Homo sapiens: one gene and its partner. The protein of the gene in region 2 interacts with the protein of the main gene of each other region in a pairwise test. Each region holds a gene or a part of one and is shown on either strand. Other genes may lie near its edges. The genes, in order: GTF2B and LPIN1.

The links.
Region 1: the proteins of LPIN1 (region 2) and GTF2B interact in binary tests that used the Homo sapiens proteins (3 or more experiments, as listed by UniProt).

The regions. Positions count from the first base shown.
Region 1 is NC_000001.11:88,884,863-88,888,685, forward strand, and holds part of GTF2B (transcription initiation factor IIB), read right to left. Parts: intron 2,506-3,823; coding exon 2,399-2,505; intron 1-2,398. UniProt on the Homo sapiens protein: General transcription factor that plays a role in transcription initiation by RNA polymerase II (Pol II). Involved in the pre-initiation complex (PIC) formation and Pol II recruitment at promoter DNA.
Region 2 is NC_000002.12:11,819,377-11,823,199, reverse strand, and holds part of LPIN1 (phosphatidate phosphatase LPIN1), read right to left. Parts: intron 3,717-3,823; coding exon 3,602-3,716; exon of another isoform or gene 3,450-3,601; intron 2,790-3,449; coding exon 2,686-2,789; intron 1-2,685. UniProt on the Homo sapiens protein: Acts as a magnesium-dependent phosphatidate phosphatase enzyme which catalyzes the conversion of phosphatidic acid to diacylglycerol during triglyceride, phosphatidylcholine and phosphatidylethanolamine biosynthesis and therefore controls the metabolism of fatty acids at different levels.

The DNA of each region.
Region 1 (3,823 bases), on a different chromosome or scaffold from region 2:
AAAGCATGACATTCAAAGTTAACTTTTCTTGTTTTGGTGTGATGGATATGTAATGGTAATAAAAACAAATAAATAAAATAGTGCAGTATGGCAACATATGTGGCGATCAACATGTTGCTGTTATAACTGCATCACTGCAATTAGTATGCTGAGCAGCAGAAAAAAAGTGATGAGAGCTGCACATGTGGTTTCTGTTGAAGCTACTAAGCTCTGCTGTTGTAATGTGAAAAGAGTCATATACACTATGTAAACAAGTGAGTGTTGCTATATTCCATTAAAACTTTATAGATACCAGGCCAGGTATGGTGGCTTACACCTGTAATCCCAGCACTTTGGGAGGCTGAGGCTGGTGGATCACCTGAGGTCAGGAGTTCAAGACCAGCCTGGCCAACATGCTGAAACCCTGTCTCTACTAAAAATACAACAAGTTAGCCAGGTGTAGTAGTGGGCCCCTGTAATCCCAGCTATTCGGGAGGCTGAGGCAGGAGAATCACTTGAAACTGGAAGGCAGAGGTTGCAGTGAGCTGGGATCGCACCACGGCACTCCAGCCTGGGCAACAAAAGGGCAACAAGAGCGAAACTCTGTATCAAAAAAAAAACTTTGGCCAGGCGCAGTGGCTCACGCCTGTAATCCCAGCACTTTGGGAGGCCAAGGCGATCGTATCACCTGAGGTCAGGAGTTCGAGACCAGCCTGACCAATGTGGAGAAACACCGTCTCTACTAAAAAAAATACAAAATTAGCTGGGCATGGTGGCACATGCCTGTAATCCCAGCTACTTGGGAGGCTGAGGCAGGAGAATCACTTGAACCCGGGAGGCGGAGGTTGTGGTGAACCGAGATCACGCCATTGCACTCCAGCCTGGGCAACAAGAGCAAAACTCCGTCTCAAAAAACAAACGAAGAAAAACTTTATAGATACTGAAATTTGTATTTTCACATGTCCTAAAATATTATTTTTGATTTTTTTTAACCATTTAAAAATGTAAAAGCCAGAATTAACAAATAGGCCATATATAGGTTGTACTTTGACGACCCCAGATTAAAATTTTATTATTATGAAAGGCAATACAAGATAGAAATCTGCCTCCCACGCAGACAATGGAGCCAGTCTTCTAGACTACCTAAACGTCAGTTTCCTTATCTGTAAAATGAAGATAATGGTAGTACTCACCTCACAGGTTTGTTGTGAGGATAAACTGAGTGAATATGTAAATCATTTAGAATAGTGCCTAGTATATAGTAAACATATTAGCTATTAATATTCCTTACTCAGCAGAATACGGTTGCAAATGATTCTCAATTCCTATTAGCAACTCTATACTTTAAAACTCCCACTATAGGTCTGAGGCAAGCAGCCTTCTTGGACCAAGTAAGTCAAGTCCACAGTATGCCACTACTAATGCTTCTGTTATACTGCCCACAATCCTTCTAGAATTTTCATTCTTAAGTAATTCAAACTGCTAAATATTACCCCTATTCTCAGATGCTACAACTCCACCACAAGAATAATTTTTGAACAGACTATCTGTAGTCTAAAGTTCTGCTGCATATCTAGATTAGTGTGCAAGTAGGAACAAGGTGAAACTTTAAGTGTTATTTTTGGCAATAATTTTATACAAGATATTCATCAATAGATGACTGTATAAAAGTTATAATAAATCTTCTTTTTGACTAAAAGGCTTTAAGTGGGACTCAAAAATCATGTTTATCTACTTCCCAATGTATAAAAAAGCCACAAAAGTTTGATTACATGTATTCATTATTTAATATGCATGAGTGTCAGCCCATCTCTCCAGTCCTCTACCAAATATTTCAGACTAAGGACTTATGAAATTACTGGGGCCTTTTCGTTTCTTCTGGATTAGCTCCCACCCCACATTATAAAAATATACATTTGGATATACAATAAAATATATCTCTGAATAAGTTTACTCGTTTCTGTTTCCTAATTGTTTTTTTGCAATAAATTATTTGTTGGGGAAGAAAGTCAAAAATGTGTTCATTAAATGATAGTTTGGAAACTATGCAAAAGTGAAGGACCCTAAACATTATTATTATTATTATTTTTTTTTTGAGACGGAGTCTTGCTCTGTTGCTCGGGCTAGAGTGCAGTGGCACGATCTCGGCTCACTGCAACCTCCGCCTCCTGGGTTCAAGCCATTCTCCTACCTCAGCCTCCTGGGCAGTTGGGATTACAGGTGCCCACCACTACGCCCGGCTAGTTTTTGTATTTTCAGTAGAGATGGGGTTTCTTCATGTTGGTCAGGCTGGTCTCGAACTCCTGACCTCAGGTGATCCTCCCACCTTGGCCTCCCGAAGTGCTGGAATTACAGGCGTGAGCCACCATGCTTGGCCTCCTGAACAGTAATTTAAATTAAAACCATAATAACAACTCACCTACAACCAAGCCACATTCAGGACAGATCATATCACCGGCTCTGTAGTCCTCCACTAAAATCGCATCTGGATGGTTTGGACATGTGACTCTTGGAAGAGCATCCAAACTAAAAGAAAAAAGTTGTATTTTTACATCTTCCCAACCAACATGTATCAAATTAATCTTCTGGGATGGGGGATGGGGAAGACAAAGATTGTGAACGTTTTTTCATACATACAACTGTAACACATATAAGCTAGATTTTCAAAGTAAACATCCCAGTTAGGTTATTTTAAATTCCAGCTAGTAACTGGCAAGTAGTTTCCACTGGAATTCTTATTTTATTGTGGAAGGCTTTCAAAACATAAATAGAAAATAATTGTTTCTTCTCTCAATATGTATGCCAGTAAGACTTTTAGAAATGTTGATTAGTATAGTAATGACTAGTTACCGTAATAACCTGCAGCATTTACATTACCATCCAGTTTGTGCTCTTTGCCACTTATTTCTCTAGTCAGAGAACAATTTCTCTCTGTATTTTTCTACTTGTTAACTACTTTAGTAACAGATTTAAATAGTACACTGAACCCAGTAAGTATAGAAATGAGGGATGGTAGAAGTTGCTCTGCTGAACTTAAGACTTGATGATTTCCTTTAGTCCAGAATTGAGTTATTGAATTTATCATTCAAGAAATTGTTTCAAAAGCTACTTGTTATCTGTGATATTAATAATTAGCTCAATTTATTTTGAACAACAAAGCAGTTTGCAGAAGACACATTCATCTTTTTTTGACACATTAATCTTAAATGATCTGACAGAATCAGCTGTAAAAGCAACAAAGATTTGATCATTATTTCAGGGGGTATGACCTCACAATCATAAATTCTTGGTATCACTGCAAATAAGGCCCTTTTAAAAACCATCTGAAATACAATAAATGGTTAGGTTATGGACATCAGATACACGTAAAAGACAAAATCAACTGTTCTTATAGTATGTAAATAGTATTTGTGGTTTGGGGTAAAGTTTCTCATGCTAGCAAATACAATTCAGAATGTTAACTCTCAACTCAGAAGGTGATATCTACGGGAAAACTGATAAAATAATCCATATTCCCCCCTAAACTTATCTAGTCAGCTTAACTAGAATATGTCTTGAATCTTCTCATTGGGAACACGGGGGGATGAGTATTACTTCATATTTGTGTTTATTCCATAAATTCCTCTAAGGAAAGTATTTTAATAAATTATGACAAATAAAATTAAACAGTTGATATAAATTATGAAAAACCATGTTGAAATAAAGGAAAATGTTAGCAGAGTAACAGTAATTACAAATTAGTAAAAGAGGAGGCCATGTGCAACACGTGCTAAGAACTAATATCTCTGCAGTATTAAAAAGTAGATAGAAAACTATAGTTTGTGTAATGATACAGAAACATCTC
Region 2 (3,823 bases):
CCCAAGCAGGCAGAGCTTACGCACAGACACTCGCAAACGAAAGGGAAAAAGAACTGAGCTGCTCCCGCTGTGTGGCCCCAGCCTCTGAAGACATTTCAGATGACTGTCCCAGTTCTGAATGACAAGCATCTACTTGGCTCAGAAATAGCTATACCAAGTTCAGCGCCAGAGAAATGTGAGCTTCCTGGGGGAGGAGATTTACTCTCTCACAGGAACAACCCCGCCTCCAGTCCAGGTGTAAAATGTCAACATCCCCTGGCAATGAGTAAAGTCTGCAGAGCTCCACCCTAGGCCAAGCCATGGGCGAGGTGTGCATTTTAACCCTAGAGCCTCAGTCAATGCAATGACCGCAGAGGCCACCTAGCCAAACCCTCTCAGATGCTGGAGTCCCTCTTTCCATGCGTGCATGGCAAGACCTGCCACTTTCCCATTCCTGGACAGCGTCTCATTGGTTCAAAGTTCTTTTTGATCCTGATATGGTTTGGCTGTGTCCCCACCCAAATCTCATCTTGAATTCCCACGTGTTGTGGGAGGGACTCAGTGGAAGTTAACTGAATCATGGAGGCAGGTCTTTCCCATGCTGTCCCTGTGATAAAGTCGCATGAGATCTGATGGTTTTATAAGGGGGAGTTTCCCTGCACGAGCTCTCTTTCTGCCTGCTGCCATCCATGTAAGACATGACTTGATCCTCCTTGCCTCCTTTGACCATGATTGTGAGGTCTCCCCTTTTTTTTTTAATTTTTTTTTTTTTAGATGGAGTCTCACTCTGTCACCCAGGCTGGAGGGCAGTGGCATGATCTTGGCTCACTGCAACCTCCGTCTCCTGGGTTCAAGTGATTCTTCTGCCTTAGCCTTCCAAGTAGTTGGATTACAGGTGCAAGCTGCCATGCCTGGCTAATTTTTTTTTTTTTTTTTTTTTTTTGGCATTTCTAGTAGAGACAGGGTTTCACCATGTTGGTCAGGCTGGTCTTGAACTCCTGACCTCAGGTGATCCACCCACCTCGGCCTCCCAAAGTGCTGGGATTATAGGCATGAGCCATCGTGCCCAGCCTAAATCCTTTCTCCTGTATAAATTACCCAGCCTTGGGTCCATGTCTTTATTAACAGCATGAAAACAGACTATAACACAGATCCTAAATAGAAACCCAGTAGGTCCTCTCCAGCCTGGGGAATGAGAGGGGAGTGGGAACGAGACATTGTCACAGTCAGCCACTTAGAACAGTGGAGGTGGCAGAAACCGCAAGGAAGGGTTAAGAAAGGAATCAAGTTCCTGCTGTTTTTCTGCCAATCAGGAAGCAGCCTGGCACTGCCTCGCCTTCTGCAGGAGGGAACAGGGCCTTGGCTCCAGCCTCCCCTCTCTCTGCACAAACCTTGAGGACTGCTTGGGTACTGGCATGACTGCAGGGTGAGAGGAGTCTTGTGGGGCAGCCCCAGGACTCCTGTTAGCCTAGAACTGCCCTATTGACACTCAGTTAGAATCCAACTAGTTTAAGGACCATCTTGAAAGTAAAAATCTGCCCTAGAGAGAACTTATCTCTCTATCTAAAACCACAGAAGCTACATGGAGAAAACCAATCCTTAGGAATCTCCTAGAACCAAACTCCCCCAGTCTAACTCCTCCAGATAAAGAGGAACCCCTCGGGCTATCTGGGGCCACTAAGGCCAGAGGCTCTTTTGTTTTTTGAGACAGAGTCTAGCTCTGTCGCCCAGGCTGGAGTGCAATGGCACGATCTGGGCTCACAGCAACCTCTGCCTCCCGAGTTCAAGTGATTCTCCTGTCTCAGCCTCCTGAGTAGCTGGGATTACAGGCATGCACCACCACACCTGGCTAATTTTTCTATTTTTAGGAGAGACGGGGTTTCTCCATGTTGGTCAGGCTGGTCTCGAACTCCTGACCTCAGGTGATCCACCCACCTCAGCCTCCCAAAGTGCTGGGATTACAGGCATGAGCCACCGTGCCTGGCCTGCCAGAGGCTCTTTTCCAGGTCTGCACAGACCAGACCAGAAGAGGTGTAGTCTCTGAAATGGACAAGGCAGGAAGACAAGGGTCGGCCTGGGCTGATGTCACCCAGTGGGCCAACCTCCCAACAACATGGAATGAGGAAATGCTCTCCATCCTAATAAGTTAGGAACCCGAGGGGGACAGGATAAAGTCAAGAGTGATTCTAAGCACACAAGGATGCCTCATTAGAAAGAGTAATCCCATTTAGCCCACCGACTCAGAAAAACTGGGCTTTGACCAAAAATATGAAGGGAATTCTTAACAATTACACAGCAATGTCTCTGGTAAGAAACATTTGGTATGTGAAGAGATATACAGTTCCTCATCTTTAAATATAACTTCACATATTTCAGTTTGGTTATATTTCTCATTCACATTCTAGGCTTTCAAACCTAACTTGGCAAATCTAAACTACTAGTTTTCAAATTCATTCAATTCCATTCTGTAGCAGACTCTAACCACGAGTTTAAATTTTAGACCCAGAAGGGATCTGATTTAATTCCAGTTGTCTAAAAATTATGTTTTGGACAAAATACAAGGAGTTAAAATACATTTTTTCATTATAAGAATTACAGATTAACATATAGGCAGCAAAGGGGAAAAGGTACACCGCAAACTGGGAAGCACCGTTTTAAGATAATAGTACTGATATCATAATCACATAAAATGTGTACAATACTCACGAAGAGATGTTGGTCTTTGCATGTTCCTGTACCAGCTCTCCTTTAGGGTTGACGGTAAATATTCTATTCAAAGACACTCCTACTTGCTTGTATGAATACACATCCTATATTTGGTAAAGGTGATTTAAAGTGTTCATTAGAAAAGAGTTCATTGTAAAAACAAGTCCATGGTATTTCTGATTTGATGAGATATCAAATTTTCATTAACCAGAGCTCTACCTCAAAGTGGTGCAGTGAAAGAATATCCTTTGATGGGAAACTATTCAATTAGTTTTGCTCTCTGGGCCTCAATTCCCTCATCTGTTCAAGGACTGAGTTGAAGAAAAGACAACCTACCACGTCCCCGCAATTCTAACATTCCTTCAGGTTATTCTTTGACCCATATTCCTACTTCATGAAAATCTCTCGTAACTTTCAAAAGTAGGACTTTCTGATGGAGCAGTTAGTACCCAACTACATTCTCTAGAATACTTAGCTTTCCAGTAAATGCGGGCAATACATGCAAAATCTCAAAGCGCTTCTTTCATGATACGAGACAACACTAGACACTTAAAACGTGAGATGCTGAATTCGCCATTATGGTTAGGACTGATTTTGCGGTTCCCTTCTGGTAGAAAGAAACTAATCCGATTAAATGTTCTTGCTTTACTGCTTTAATGAGTAATTTGAAATTTGGAGTTTTAAGTCCCATATCTCAAGCTTTGACCCACCCGCCAACCTTCAAAGAACCCTGGAAGCCATAAGATAATTTGTAATCCCCTTGCCTTTAGATGTGGGCAAGTGGCTCTTCACCAGGCTACTGCTTCTGGGATGAGAATCTGACTCTACATATGGTTCTCGGATAGGGCTTTCAGATGACAGCAACCAGAAAAGGCAGTCATTTCAAGGGTTCTTCTATACCCAATCTACTACTTACAGCTGGTCGGTTTCCAAAAGCAGCATAAAAGGGTTCTGTGTTGGGGAAAAACAGGTTTTTGATGTCTGTCAAACACTGGACTTTAAACTTTTCTGGCTTCTTTTCAATCACTTCTCTGTTAAACAAATAAATAACAGATTAACATGAGAGGCTAAGCTTCCTTTAGCATCAAACTGTTTTTAGCTGACAAAGCTGCCGCAACACTGAGAAAACTCAAATCTT